Linked DNA regions of Homo sapiens: region 1 is linked to region 2. The links come from fine-mapping of genetic effects on gene expression. Tissue or cell type: whole blood. Region 2 holds a variant in brackets; the other region holds the start of a gene. All regions are shown on one strand. Distances are from middle to middle.

Region 1 (8,122 bases), 100 kb after region 2:
TTACCTTAATTACAGGTTCACTACAAGTATTGTAGATCAGGTTTGCATTTTGGCAGCTCTTTAGGGAACAGATTTCAGTCCAGGATTCACAATATTGATGAGAAATCATCTATGAAATCTGCATGATAAACAAGGTCTATTGAAGATAATTTTTTTGGAATAGATTTGAGGGCAAGAAATAGGGAACAGTGAAAGAGAGGCAAGATATGGGGCTAGACTTGAAATGCATATAGCCAGCCGGGCGCAGTGTCTCATGCTTGTAATCCCAGCACTTTGGGAGGCCAAGGTGGGCAGATCACGAGGTCAGGAGATCGAGACCATCTTGGCCAACATGGTGAAACCAAACCCGGTCTCTACTAAAATACAAAAAATTAGCTGGCCCCCATGGTGGCACATGCCTGTAATCCCAGCTACTTGGAGGCTGAGGCAGGGGAATCGTTTGAACCCGGGAGGCGGAGGTTGCAGTGAACTGAGATTGCGCCACTGCACTCCAGCTTGGCGACAGAGCAAGACTCCGTCTCAAAAAAAAAAGAAAAGAAAGAAATGCATATAGCCTATAAGCAGAAATAAATAAGAAATGACATAAAACATTGAATCTCATATCAAGAAACTGACAGGTTCACAAAGCTTTGCTGTGGTAAACTTTAGAGAGGAAAATCTTGAAGACTGGCAAGGGTCACCCCACAAATATGAGTTCTTCCTGAGGATCTTATGATATTTACTAGATTGAGTAGATTATTAGGTCTGGCTTTTTCCTTTACTTTTATTTTTTTAAGAAGTGCTGTGGGCTGGGCGCGGTGGCTCACGCCTGTAATCCCAGCACTTTGGGAGGCTGAGGCAGGAGGATCACGAGGTCAGGAGTTTTAGCTCGAGGTTTTCTACCTTAGTTTCACAGGTACCTCATTCAACAAATATCTTTCTGCCAAGACACAAATGATTTCCTAGCTTAGAATTTGCTGTAAAACAGCACTAATACCATTTAATCACAATAACAAGCAAAATCTAAAAAAAACACACTAATACTTAAGTGCTGCAAAAGTGGTAATGTTTAATATTTAATTGACAAGCTGGTCTAGCATTACTTTGAGATCAAAGCATCAATGTCTTTTCCATAGCGTAAATACAATCACCAACACTTAACCAATTGCTCTCCTCAGGAGAGGGCTCTGAAGTTAGTTTTATAGAATAGAATACAATGTACCAACTGCAAATACAAGAGATAGAATAGTAGGAACATGTCAAACAAGAACGATATGTTCATTAAATTAAAAAGATGAAAACAATTTCTAAGTTGACATCTTGTGGTGGAATTTAAACATCCATATGCTTTGTTTCTAGAAGTTAAAAAAAGCATACTCGATACTTAAGCTGCTCTGCAGAGTGCTTGATGTAAAAATTTTTTAAACATAGCTTATGTATGGACTCAAATGCTGTACTGGGGACATGAAATCGTATCAGGGAGTTTCTCAGTCTAAGTAGCACAAAATCCAAATTAAGAAAGGCACATTTAGGCAAGGGCTTTCTGTTCAGATGTAACTCACCAAGCACCACAATTACTCAAAGCTGAGTCTTTGTGCACAGAAACATCAGCAGGAGCCATGGATTGCCCTGACAACCACTCAGCTAGAGTGCTGACAAGCAGAGATGCTGCCACCAGAGCGTGATTATGGCCACCAGGCCATGCCTTGCCCAAAGATGAATACAATATGCTCTTGCTCTACTACGCTTCAGACTAAATGTGTTCTTTAAAAAACAATTCTGTATATCCATGTCAACAAACTGTTTTTTTTTCCCCTCACCCAGAAAACACTAGCAGACAATTGCTCACATACAATATGAAGTATGAGAATTGTGTATTTTTCAAAGTTATTAAATGCTCCTATAAGGCACACTCATAGAAGTGTGAAAGACTTCAGAAAGACCAATTATAGTTGGGAACGCTTATTTGAAATACTGCTTACGACAAGTCCTTGCAAGCTAAGATTTTATGAGCTGTCAGGTCACAAACTACTTGTTTTTCTAGCTGCTTCATAGGCTCTAGGGGTCTGAATGTTTCTGGGAAAAAAAATAAATAGAAATAATACTTGCCTTTACCCACAGGATATTTCATAACAAGTGGGAAAGCCACAAAAGAGTGATATCTTAGAATGAAAAATGTCCCGATAGCCAGGTAATTTGATTAGCAGAAAATGGTTTAGTAGTCCTAGCTAAAACTCCTCAAGAGCCAGAATATTTTTATCGGTTTACTCATGGTAAAATGTAAAAGCTGTATATAAAGAACAGCATTTCCACTTCTCAAGTTCTGAAAATTGTCTTTATAGCTGGACAGTTGGCTTAAAACAAAAATTTGCAAATTAGAAACATTCAAACATAACGCTTCTTACGATGATTCCTAACTACTGTTTCCCTGTTATTAGGCCTAATAAGCCCGATGGTACCATTTTCTTTTAAAAGGGTATCCACATTCCTGCTGAGGTATGCAATGGCACCACCCTAGACAGCATCAGATGGGAAATATGGAGAAAAGGATTTGCAGGTGATAATTTGAGAAAGGGCAGCCAGTCCCGGGATCCACAAAAATGCTACTCAACGTGTTAAATGGACTTAATAGAAAACACTTGGGGCTGGTCGCGGTGGCTCACCCCTGTAATCCCAGCACTTTGCGGGGCTGAGACGGGCGGATCACAACGTCAGGAGTTCGAGACCAGCCAGTCTGGCCAACATGGTGAAACCCCGTCTCTACTAAAAATACAAAAATTAGCCGGGTGCGGTGGCGCGCGCCGGTCATCCTATTTTCTGGGGAGGCTGAGGTAGGAGAATCGCTTGAACCCAGGAGGCGGAAGTTGCAGTGAGCCGAGATCGCACAACTGCACTCCAGCCTGGGTAACAGAGCAAGACTCCGTCTCCAAAAACAACAACAAAAAACAATAATCTGTGTTTAAAATGGCATGTGAAAGGGGTTCCTCGTATTGGGTTGTTTTAATGTTTGGTATCTCTTTGACTACACAATGCAACACTTACAGTAAAAGTACAACCTTTAAAAGTATAAAAAGCCCATCTCCCCAATGACTTTATAAGTCTACCATTTTACATTTTAAGGAGTTTGCCCCTGTTCTTACATTTAGTAACAACATGGCCTTCCTCATTCTCTTTCAAACATTCCTGGAATTGATTTTCTGAATGCACTTAATCCTTTGGTCACAAGCTCAATGAAAAGGAAAAAAAAATGCACTTAAATATTCCCTGCATCAATTGAAACTGAAGCCCTCAGACAGCTGGAGGAAAAGGGGGGGAAGGAAAAAAAAGAACAAAATAAACAGGAAGTGAAAGTGACAAGAGAATCACACTGCTTACTTTTTGGCTTTTAAGCCTTTAACAATCTGAAAGTAATCTTAACAGTGTGGGGGAGGAACAAACGAAAACTCAGAAACAGCTCCCTCCCCAACCACACACACCCTGAAGGCTTTGGCTGTCTTTCCTCATCTGGGTCAGAGTTTGCACTCCCGGGCTCCTGTCAGGCTCCATCGCAATCCTCCTTAAACTCAGCGCTTTCCCCTTCTTCTAGTCTTTTTTGGTGCACATCCACTCTCTACTCCTCCAAGCCACGGTTCTCCACAGACCACAATACAACGGTGTCAGGCCAACTGTTACTCACCAGCACACTCATGATTCACCCGTCTCTCGGGTGTCTGAACAAAACGCGAGTTTTTCTTCCTTCTGGGAAAGGGAGGTGCTCGCAGATTTCAGGATGGAAATTTCACTCTCCTGCGACCGTCCACACCCGGGACGGTCACTGCCCCGTTCATCGTTTCCGGGCTCCTTAGGGGCTCGGGCACTGATCACCAAGAGGGAACCGGCCCCGCGGCGCAGCGGCTTTGGAAACTTGCTCCTGACCGAGAGCTGCAGCCCAGAAACTGCCTCCCAGGTTATTCTGCTGCTCCCAGGCCGAAGTCTGGTGGTCCCCGCACCCTATCTCGGCCCGGGTGAGGCACCCCCAGCCGCAGCGCTCTGGCTTCACCTTCCCCGGGCCCGGAGTCTTGACCTCAGCCCAGGCCTCCGTGACCCACGTCGGCCGCCCGGCCACCACCTGTCGGGACCGCCCGGCGCGCGGAGCCCGGCAGCCAGCAAAACGCAGTTGACTGCTCGGCCGCTCGGCTTTTGCTCCCGCCAAAGTTGTCCAACGCAAACTTTGCACCAGCCTACCCCGAACCCCCACAGCCCGGCACCCGCTCTTACCTGGGGCGGAGGCGGCAGCGGCCACGGGCGCGCTGGGCGCCAGGTGCCAGGGGTCGGCAGCAGCCGCGTGCGCCACGGCCAGAGGCCCCTCTGGAGCATCCTCCCGCCCCAGGCGCGCGGCTCCCGCAGGCGTCAGCGGCGCATCCTCCCTCAGCCGGGCTCCTCGTCAGCGCCTGGTGGCTCCGAGCTGTGGGCGCTCCCGCCCCGCCTGCTCGCTCAGCGCGCCGCGGCTCCAGCTTGGGCGGGCTCACGGGAGGGTGTGTCCCTGTTTCCACTTGTCGGCTCTCTACGCATCCGGGCGCAGGGCTGTTTTCTTTCCTCCGACCAAAAAAAAAAAAAAAAAAGAGAGCGAGAGAGCGGGAGCCCGAGAGCGGGAGCCCGAGGTCGAGGGCCCCCTCCTTCTCCAGCAGAAGACCCTCTGGAATGAACAGCAGCAGGCGACGCACACCTTGCGAGCTCTAGATTTCAAAACTCGCTGTTAATTCCCGGTGCTGCGTGCTCTGAGCGCCGTCTTCGCCATCCAACCCAGACGGGGATGAGACGAAAACAGCGTCCGGCATCTGGAGGGGGCAGGGCCGCTCAGGAAGTTTGTTTTCCCCACCGAGCTTGGAGAAGACGGATTGAAGCGGGTCGGCCGAGGCCTCTCCCACCTCCACAACCTCCAAGGCCTCTGCCCCGGGCTGCGGTGCCGGGCCCCTGCTCGCTGGCGAGTGCGGTGTGAGGCGGGCAGCCCGGGCCTACCCCTGCGGAGGTTTGTAGTTCACGGTATAGGGGCCCAAACCCGAGTTTTTTGGGAAAGTATCTCCCACAGAATTGGCTTCTCTTTTGAAGCACGTTTTTAATTGAAGAAGCTTCGGAACCGGTATTGAGTTCTTCTAACTACTGGGAAATCGGATGCTTTGTTTTGAGACTACTTATTTTTGAAAGCAAACCAAAGGCATTAAAGAGCAACCTAAACCAATTACAGTAGGGTTGTTAGATAAAATATAGGATGCCCAGTTAAACTTGAATTTTAGATACAAATAGTGAAGTATGTCCCAAATATTGCATGGGTCACATTTATTATTTTAAAAATGAAATATCTGGGATATACTAAATTATTTGGTGTTTATCTGAATTCAAATTTAACTGGGCACTCCGCATTTTTATCTCCTGAATCTGCAAGAGGGTTCAGTTAATGAATCAAAATTGGCAAACCTGCAATAAGTGGCAAATCACTCCTGGCGGTAATCTCCTTTCCTTATTGAAAAGGGAAAGAATCACAAGTTTCTACTATAGTAAAAACTTTATCACTATTAAAGGCTGATTCACCTGTGTTAACTAGCATGTCTTTCAAAATACAGTTGCCCCAGATGGAGAGTGACACATGAAACTTTAAGTTCATATGGGAAGGTAAATTACCTTACCTGAATCTTTTCCTCCTATTAGCTAGTGCTCCAAGTGAAAGAAGCGTGTATTTTTGTTTTTTTGTTGTGAAGGGTTCTTGTTTAATACAACTGAAAAGAATGCCTATACAAAGAATTGACATGAAAAAGCATTGATTCAACACTCATGAGCTAGGTTCTGAAAGGTGTAAAAAAATTACCTGAACATTTTTAGAAATTGGAAACTACAACTAAAACTGATAAAAATCCCTATTAACATTTGTGAAGAATCTTGATAATGTGTCCTGAATTGGTGGGTTCTTGGTCTCACTGACTTCAAGAATGAAGCCGCGGACCCTGGTGGTGAGTGTTACAGTTCTTAAAGGTAGCGTGTCCGGAGTTTGTTCTTTCTGATGTTCGGACATGTTTGGAGTTTCTTCCTCCTGGTGGGTTCAGTGGTTTCGCTGGCTTCAGGAGTGAAGCTGCAGACCTTGGCAGTGAGTGTTACAGCTCTTAAGGTGGCGCGTCCGGAGTTGTTCATTCCTCCCAGTGGGTTCGGGTCTCACTGGCCTCAGAAATGAAGCTGCAAACCTTCACGGTGAGTGTTACAGATCATAAAGGCAGTGCAGACCCAAAGAGTGAGCAGCAGCAAGATTTATTGCAAACAACAAAAGAACAAAGCTTCTAGAGCGTGGCACGGGACCCAGACAGGTTGCCACTGCTGGCTCTGGCAGCCTGCTTTTATTCCCCCATCTGGCCCCACCCACATCCTGCTGATTGGTCCATTTTACAGAGCGCTGATTGGTCCGTTTTGACAGGGTGCTGATTGATGTGTCTACAATCCCTGAGCTAGATACAGAGTGCTGATTGGTGTATTTACAATCCTTTAACTGGATATAAAGGTTCCCCAAGTCCCCACTAGATTAGCTAGACACGGAGCACTGATTGGTGCATTTACAAACCTTGAGCTAGACACAGGGTGCTGATTGGTGTGTTTACAATCCTTTAGCTAGACATAAAGGTTCTCCAAGTCCCCAGGAGATTAGCTAGATACAGAGTGCTGATTGGTGCATCCACGAACCCTGAGCTAGACACAGAGCACTGATTGGTGCATTTACAAACCTTTAGCTAGACAGAGTGCTGATTGGTGCATTTACAATCCTCTAACTAGACATAAAAGTTCTCCAAGTCCCCACCCCTCTCAGGAGCCCAGTTGGCTTCCCCTAGTGGATGCCATGCCAGGGTTGCGGGCTGAGCTGCTTGCCAGTCCTGCGCTCGTGCCTCGTGCCTGCACTCAGCAGCCCTTGGGCAGTCAATGGGACTGGACGCCGCTGAGGCAGGGGCGGTGCCCCTCAGGGAGGCTAGGGCCTAGCAGAAGCCCACCGCGGGGGGACTTGCACATGGCGGGCTGCAGATCCGAGCCCTGCCCCATGGGGAGGTGGCTGAGGCCTGGTGAGAATTTGAGCGTGGCGCGGGCCGGCTGGCAGTGCTGGGGGACCTGACGCCCCCCTCTGCAGCTGCTGGCCCAGGTGCTAAGCCCTTCACTGCCCGGGCCGGGGGTGCCGGCCGCCCTCCGAGTGCGGGGCCACGGAGCCCACGCCCACCCGGAACTCGCGCTGTCCCGCAAGGCCACATGCAGCCCCGGTTCCCACCCGCGTCTCTCCCTCAACCTCCCTGCAAGCAGAGGGAGCTGGTACCAGCTTCCGCAAGCCTGGAGAGGGGCTCCCACAGTGCAGCAGCGGGCTGAAGGGCTCCTCAAGCATGGCCAGAGCGGACTCTGAGGCCAAGGAGGCGCTGAGAGCCAGCGAGGGCCGCCAGCACATTGTCACCTTTCAATAAGATTCTTTACACAATTTTTATTAAACCAGAGAGCCAGCCAGGCGTGGTGGCTCATGCCTGTAATCCCAGCACTTTGGGAGGCCAAGACGGGCGGATCACAAGATCAGGAGTTCAAGACCAGCCTGGCCAACATTGGTGAAACCCTGTCTCTACTAAGAATACAAAAATTAGCCGGGCGTGGTGGAACGTGCCTGTAGTCCTGGCTACTCGGGAGGCTAAGGGAGGAGAATTGCTTGACCCCGGGGAGGCAGAGGTTGCAGTGAGCCGAGGTTGTGCCACTACACTCCAGCCTGGGCGACAGAGCAAGACTCCATCTCAAAAAAAAAAACAAACCAGAGAGCCTCATTTGGGGGCTCTTGGGTTCCTCGTCTGCTACACAGAAGTGAGGAGATTCCCCTGACTGATCTCATGTTGTTAAGTGTTCTATCCATCCCCACCACACCCCAACTTCTTCATGAAGCAGGTCTCCATCCTTATAACTTGAGAGGCTGTGAATCATTCCATAGATGTCGGTCTTCTGCTACCGCTCTTCACATTGCCTCTACATACCAGGTCTTCAGCTGCATTCTAGAAACATCATATACTATTGATTGCAAATCTATAATAATATAAGACAATGACTGACAGGGAAAAAAGTTTTTTTAAGTTACAAACTCAATCCACTTGTTGCATTTCAAAGGTGC
Region 2 (8,000 bases):
GACATATATAGATGAAAAGCAAAGGGATGAAGAAAGATATACTATGCTAACACTAATAAAAAGAAAGCTGAAATAGCTATATTAATTTCAGACAAAACAGACATTAGAGCAAGGAAAGCTACCAGGAGTAAAGAGAGACATTACATAATAATAAAAGGCCAATTCTCCAAGAAGACAGAACAATGCTTAATGTGTATGCTCCTAACACAGCATCAAACTACATGAGGCAAAACAAAAACTAATAGAACTACAAGAAGAAATAGATGAATTCATGTTTACAGTTACAGACTTCAACATTCCTCTATTAGAAATGGACAGATCTGCCAAGCAGAAAATCACGGGGTATACAGTTGAACTCAATAGCACCACCAATCAACTGAGATAAACGTGACATCTATAGACTATCCAACAACAGCACAATACACATTCTCAAGTTCACAGGGAACATCTCATCAAGACAGATCACAATGAAGGCTATAAAACTCACATGAGTAAATGTAAAAAAAGAAAAATACAATGTATGCTTTCGGATCTCAGTGGAATTAAACTAAAAATCAATAACCCAAAGATAGCTGGAAAATCCCAAAATACTTAGATATTAAATAATGTACTTCTAACACATGGGTCAAAGAAGAAATCACAAGAAAAAAATTAAAATATTTTAAAATAAATGAAAATACAACTTATCAAAATTTATGGAAGGCAGTGAAAGCAATGCTCAGAGGGGAATCTATAGGATTGAATACATATAACAGGAAAGAATAAACATCTATAAGATCTGAACTTATACTTTAAGAAACTAGAGAAAGAGGAGCAAATGAAATGAAAAGCAAGCAGAAGAAAAGAGATAATAAATATAGTAGAATATTTATTATGTAGAGTATATAATATACTCTACATAATATATATTCTATTCTATATTATAAACATAGAGTAGAAACCAATGAAATTGAGAACAGGAAACCCACAGAGAAAAATCAATGATGTTAAAAGCTAGTTCTTTGGAAAAAATCAATTAAATTGATAAACTTCTAGCCAGGTTAATCAAGAAAAAAAGAGACAACAAGTTACTCATGGTAGAAATGAAATGAGAGGATTTAACTACAGATCCCATGGACATTAAAAGGAAAATAAAGAAATACTATGAACAACTCTATGCCCACAAATTCAATAACCTAGACAAAATAGATTAATTCTCTAAAAGGTACAATCTATCAAAACTCACACAAAAAGAAATACACAATCTACATAAGCCTATACCTATTAAGCAACTGAATCAATAATAAATTTCCAAAACAGAAAGCACCAGGTCCAGATGGATTTTCTTGGTGAATTCTACCAAACATCAAAGGAAGAAACTATATTAATTATCTACAATCTCTTTCAGAAGACAGAAGCAGAGGGAATACTTCCTAACTCATTCTATGAGGCCAGCATTACCTTAATACTAAAACCAGACAAAAACACTGTAAGAAAACAAAACCACAGACCAATATCTCTCGTGAATATAGACACAAAAATCCTCAGCAAAATAATAGCAAATAAAATACAACAATGTCTAAAAAGATTGCTACACCACAACTAAGTGGGATTTATCCAGGTATGCAAGGCTCAACACTTGAATATGAATTCATGTAATCCATCATATCAACAGACTAAGGAAGAAAAATCACATGATAATATCAATAGATGCAGAAAAAGATTTGACAAAATTGAACACCAATTCACAATGAAGACTCTCAGCAAACCAGGAACAGAGGGCAATTTCCTCAACTTGTGAAAGACAATGAGAAAGCAAGCCATAGCCTGGGAGAAAATATTTGCAAAAGACGTATCTGATACAAGACCGTTATCCCAAACATACAAAGAACTCAAAAGAAAATGAACAACCTGATCACAAAATGGGCAAAGATCTGAAAAGACACCTCAACAAAGAAGACATAGATGGCAAATAGGCGTATGAAGAGATGCTCATCATCATACATCATTAAGAAACTACAAATTAAAACAATGACTACACACCTACTACAATGGTGAAAATCACATCCAAATCACTAATACCACCAATTGCTGGCAAGGATATGGGGCAACAGGAATTCTCATTCACTGCTGGTAGGAACACAAAATGGTACAGCCACTTTGGAAGACAGCTTGACAGTTTTACACAAAACTAAACACTCTCACCATATGTGCCAGCAATCATGTTCCTGGGTATTTAACCAAATGATTTGAAAATCTACGTGCAAACAAAAGCCTGCGCATGTGTATTTATAGCAACTCCATTCATAATTGCCAAAACTTGGAAGTATCCCAGATGTCCTTCAGTAGGTGAATAAACTGTGGTACATACAGATAATGAACAATTATTCAGCACTAAAAGGAAATGAGCTAACAAGCTCTGAAACACATGAAAGAAACTTAAATGCATATTACTAAGTGAAATAAGCCAAGCTGGCCTTCCTCTTCACTTTCTTCTTTACTGCCTCGTCTCCTCCCTTATCACTCCCTTTTCTTCTCTTTGCTCTCTCTTCCTTTCCCCCTTCTTCTTTCCCCTCTTGCCTTTCTTTTTTTCCTCCCACTCTCCCCCTTTTTTCACTCCTCTCTCTCACTGTTTAGTATTTTCCCTGTTGTACCCCCTTTCTTAAATATCCTATTTTCTCTTCCCTTGCTCTCTCATGTCCCTGGCCCTACTACCATGCGCCCCCACCCCTGCCAAAAAGAAAGAAAGAAGCGAATCTGAAAAGGCTATACAATCAGCCCTTCTTATTTGTGGGTTCTGCATCTGTGAACTCAACCAACCATGGATTGAAAATATTTGGGAAAAAAATCTAATAAAAATTAACAATACAACAACAACAAAATGAATGAAAAAACAATATAGTATAACAACCATTTACACAGCATTTACACTGTCTTAGGTATTGTAAGTAATCTAGAGATTTAAAGTATATGAAGGGAGTATGGAGGTTAAATGCAAATATAACAAACATTTTGTATCAGGGCCTTGAGCATCCTTGAATTTTGGTAGAGTTTGGTAGAGTTTGCCTGGCCCTATTCTGTATAATTCTTAATGTCATAGACAGGTTCTTGAAAACTGCAACTTTAAATGAAACAACTATAAGGAAACCAATTTTACCATAGGCTAATTGATATAAGCAAGAGTTAGGTTCTTACAGCATATTTCTGGTCATAAAAACATCATTAAACATCTAAATAAAGACCCAAGACACTTTTAATGTTAAATATTAAAATAAATGTAAGCTACATATACATTTAAGAAAGATTAATAAAAACAAGATGATTATTTACATTATGTACATTAATGATGAATACATGTAGTTCTACATTTGTCACAATCTATAGAATATACAACACCAAGAGTAAACCCTAATGTAAACTATGGACTTTGGGTGACAATGATGTGTCAGTGTGTTCACCAATTTTAATAAATATACCAGTCTGGTGTGGGATATTGACAATAAGGGGCGTGGGGTGCAGAGAGCATATGGGAACTCTCTCTACATTCTGCTCGATTTTGCTTTGAACCTAAAACTGCTTTAAATAATACAATTTTTTTTTTTTACAAGAGTTAAGAGCTATACAATCATGTATACTTGAATTCTTGATTTTCAGGCCTACCTCTCTCTTAACCCAATAATGTCGGTTAAGCATTCAAGATCCTAAAGTAAAATCCTGAAAGTCTAAAAAGAGTATACGGGACTAAAAGTCCTGCTAGGCAACTGTAGGTGATCACTTATACCCCTGCTGGAAAAGCTTAAACACTGGTTTTCCAAAGACTTCTTGGTCATCTGATAAATTTAAGATTCTTAACATAAACTTTGCTCCCTCTGGAAACCTCACAGCTAAAGGTAAAAGTGAAGATACCAGCCTGGACAACATAGGGAGACCCAATCCCTAAAAAAATGTTAAAAAATTAGCCAGGCATGGTGGTGCATGCAGGTAGTCCCAGCTACTCTGGAGGCTGAGGTGGGAGGATTGTTTGAGCCCAGGAGTTTGAGATTACAGTGAGCTATGACGACGTCACTGTACTCCAGCCTGGGAAACAGAGCAAGTGAGAATTCATCTAAAAAAAAAAAAAAAAAGTAATAGTTGGATAGCTGTGTTTCTTACCTCTCTTTGGACACTGCACATCATATGCTATTTTATTAATGACAAGTTTAAAATCATTCATTAGCAAAATATCCATCAAGGTAGAAGCTGAAATCATGTTGCCATCTGAAAGAAAAACATCATGCATGAGCATGTCTTTGTTTTAGAACAGTAAGAACCATTTTCCAACACATAGAAAATTACTAACCCAGGTCTTTACAATATAATAGTGGACAATTTACTTTTGTGGGGGGTGTCCCCAAACCCAAACACTATTCCCATTGAGGGGAATCCTCCTCTATTGCTCTACCTCCCATTTCCTTGGACGAAATGGAACAGGCAGGCACTCCCTCTCCCACCCTGTCAGCTGTGCTGGAATCCAGGTAGTGCCCTTGGTGAAACTGCATCTGTGGAGAGTCATGCAAAGGTTCAGGGGAGGTGGAAACCCTTCACAGCAAGGCCAGAGCAGTGGCAGGTGACAGTTTTGGGGGTAGGGTGGAGTGTAGGCAGCAGAGCTCATCAGGTGGTTACTGGGTTAACCTGGTCTCAGCTCCTGTCTTCTCTTAGTTCCTGCCCTCTT[C/T]TGGGCCTGTCTTCTGCCACTTCCAGCATGAGAGCCTGTTGACATACTCCTCTGCTTAGCCAGAGTCCATTCTGCTGCTTATGGCCAAGCTTCTGACTGGCACATGTAGGCATAAGGGTATAACTATTTAAAAACCCTGCCTTTCTCTTATTTTTAATTATTAGAGGTAACTGATTTGTGGTGGTTAAAAATTTAGTAGCTAAATAGCACCACAAGCTATCACCACATGGGCTCATCTTCCTTTCAAGCTTGAAAAAAATGAAGAGGCAAACTGTCAAGGAGGTGAGGACAATAATGAACGTGATGCCTAAGAAATAAATTTGCATTGTATGGTTTATTTTGTGGAAGGGGAGAGAGGCAGGAGAGATTCTAACAGTAATTTCAAATATCCTAGGAGTATTTCAGGAAAAAAAAAGTCTTGAAAAATTTTAACCACAATGTGCTTTGCACAGCCTCTCATAGAGCCTAGGTTTTGTTATATTTTTGAACCAAACTTTAATGTAATCCAGGTGTTAAGAAAGCAAATTCACTGAACAATAAGCAAAAAATTGGTGCTGGGTAGAGGTTTCTTTTTCTATCATTTTCCCTTCAGAATAGTTCACATATAATTACATGAAATTAAGTCCAGGAAAATGCTGGATGTGTATTTTCAAATCCCGGCCTGACATTCATTTGGTTACATTCAACCCGAGCTATTTTAGCTATATTAATATGTGTGATGACAGGACTAACACTAGTAACATCCCGAAGAAACTGGCTGCTGCCTCTTGTCTGCCTCCCTATAGTTCTTTTGTTCTGGAAGACTGCAAATCAAGTCTGCACCTGTGTCTGTTCCTAGAATTTGGCTGTTTGGGTTGCTGTTCATCAGTTGCAGTGAGATCATTTTCCAAAAAATTGCCAAATAATTCAACCCACACAATGGGCAAAACTGTGACAAGCTTAGAACACTCTTTTCAAGCCCAAATTAAATGCAGGCAAATTCCACCCACAGAGTCTTTTAAAAAGAAGAAAAAAAAAATCAGCAACACACCAATCGCTTTATCTTTCCAAGTGTCATTTAAAAATTTACATGTAAATGACTTCAAACCAGCTCCTTAAAATCTTACTAAAAAAGACATACACTGAATATGATTTCTCAGTTGAAATACTATATTATCCTTTATACAAAGGTATGAATAGCAAAAGACTGACGTGAAACATTTTTAAGCACTAGTGATACAGTGTTAAATTTTTCATGTATTCTTGGGTATCAATTTAAACCCCCGATAGGGTGTTTGCACTCAGTCCAAAGAGTCCCTTTTCTCTAAGACTTCTATTCTCTTTCTTTGTGCTTTCTGTTTCAAAGCTACTAACTTTATTTTTAGAAATAAGCAGGATAAACATCTATCATTTTAACCTCTCTTATTTCATTCACTTCAATACTAATTGAGTACACACCACCAGGCAAGTGCTGCTCAGTGCAGGCCCTTCTGACTTCCAGGTTTGGGTCTGCCTGCCCCTAGAAGCTTAGAAAGAGGGCCCTGCCCCTGTGGAAAACGCCCATGGACATTCCAGTGTTCCTGTGCCTGGGGGAAATGTCTGTCTAGTTCAAGGATGAAATATTAGGAAGCCCATTGTGCCATAGGGCTAAAACCTTATTCTCTGATCCAGGTTTTAGCAGGAAGAAACGTCCCTTCCAGCTAAATCTATAGTCCTAACAACAACCTACAATAAGCCTTTCCTGATCTGCCCTTCCCCACCTCTCAGAACTCCTCCTTTCTCCCAGCTCCCTCCTTTGCGGTCACTGTGTAGTAGGCTCCCACCTCAATGCAGTCTCACTCTATCACTCAGGCTGGAGTGCAGTGGTGCCATCTCGGACCACAGCAACCTCCGCCTCCCATGTTCAAGCGATTCTCCTGCTTCAGCCTCCTGAGTAGCTGGGATTACAGGTATGCAACACTACACCTGGCTAATTTTTGTATTATTAGTAGAGAAGGGGTTTTGCTATGTTGGCCAGGCTGGTTTCAAACCCCTGACCTCAGGTGATCCACCCACCTCGGCCTCCCAAAGTGCTGGGATTACAGGTGTGAGCCACCGCATGCGGCCCAGAGCTCTCTTCCCTCTACGTGACTCCCTCCCTCATTTCCCCCAGGTCTTTGTGCAAATGTAATCTTATCAAGCCCACCCCTGCCCACACACATCTTCCACACTCTGCTTTATTTTTCTTCGTAACACTTATTATTTAACATAATACATAATTTATCTTGTTTTTTTCTCCTCCTAAATATAAGCTCCATAAGGGCAGGAGTTTTTATCCCTTTTGTTCTCTGCACTACCTCTAGCGTATAGAACAGTGCCTGACATACATTAGGTGCTCAATAAATATTTGTTGAATGAATCAATTAATCTCCATTTTCCAACTTCTCTATCTTTTAATTAATTTGGAACTTGGATAGGGAAAAAGTCTGTTTATTTCCCTTTCAAAACTGCAACAGTAATCATGAACCTAAATAACTTTATTCTAAGTATTTAATATCATAATGAAATAATGCAAATTTATTAATTTATCTATATTTGCAGCTGCTATGTAGTGGGATAGGGTAAATAATTCTTTATTCTATTTAGAAGCAGTTGGTCTAAGACCATTTCAGACTATGAGAACATGAAAGCTGTATTCTAAATTTTAAATGTCTAAGTGATGACATACTTCTGGTTTTTTAAAAAATGTATATTCTTCCTAAGAACTAATTCTGCCAAAAAACATACTAGACTGTAATTGCTTTATAACAGTGGTGAACAAATTTTTTGTGTACTTTAATTATTCACTGGCTTATTTTAATAATTAAAACTGCATTTTGTTTTCTAATTATTCAAATTTTGCTGAGAATTGCACGCTAATGCCTGTGCCACTAAGATTTTCTCATGAAAAACCTTTAAGGCTAAGTTTATAAAATAAGTAACTGAAATTTACATTAAATTTATTCCATTAATTTTTCATTCAATGAAGTTAAATTTTTTTTTTTTTTAATTTTCTTTTCTTGGGATGGAGTTTCACTCCTGTTGCCCAGACTGGAGTGCAATGGCGTGATCTCGGCTCACTGCAACCTCTGCCTCCTGGGTTCAAGCAATTCTCCTGCCTCAGCCTCCCAAGTAGCTGGGATTACAGGTATGTACCACCACGGGTGGCTAATTTTGTGTTTTTAGTAGAGACGGGGTTTCTCCATGTTGGTCGGGCTGGTCTCGAACTCCTGACCTCAGGTGATCCGCCTGACTCGGCCTCCCAAAAGTGCTGGGATTACAGGTGTGAGCCACCACGCCAGGCCAAAACAGT

The links. PIP is the estimated chance that this variant, and not a neighbour inherited with it, causes the effect.
Region 1: it holds the start of MCUB, and the variant in region 2 is fine-mapped to the expression of MCUB in whole blood (TOPMed, PIP 0.97).

The regions. Positions count from the first base shown.
Region 1 is chr4:109,556,551-109,564,672 of GRCh38, reverse strand. It overlaps MCUB (mitochondrial calcium uniporter dominant negative subunit beta), which reads right to left and starts at 4,427. Exons shown (of 8, transcript NM_017918.5): 1 at 4,237-4,427. The coding sequence starts at 4,335. RefSeq lists an enhancer at 3,541-3,740 and a silencer at 4,161-4,480.
Region 2 is chr4:109,660,526-109,668,525 of GRCh38, reverse strand. It overlaps MCUB (mitochondrial calcium uniporter dominant negative subunit beta), which reads right to left. Exons shown (of 8, transcript NM_017918.5): 4 at 4,132-4,236. It also overlaps a transcript of CASP6 not described here. Among named protein-coding and RNA genes, the nearest start is that of CASP6, 39 kb to the left of the region's middle. The variant C/T (reference allele first, on the strand shown) is at 4,691.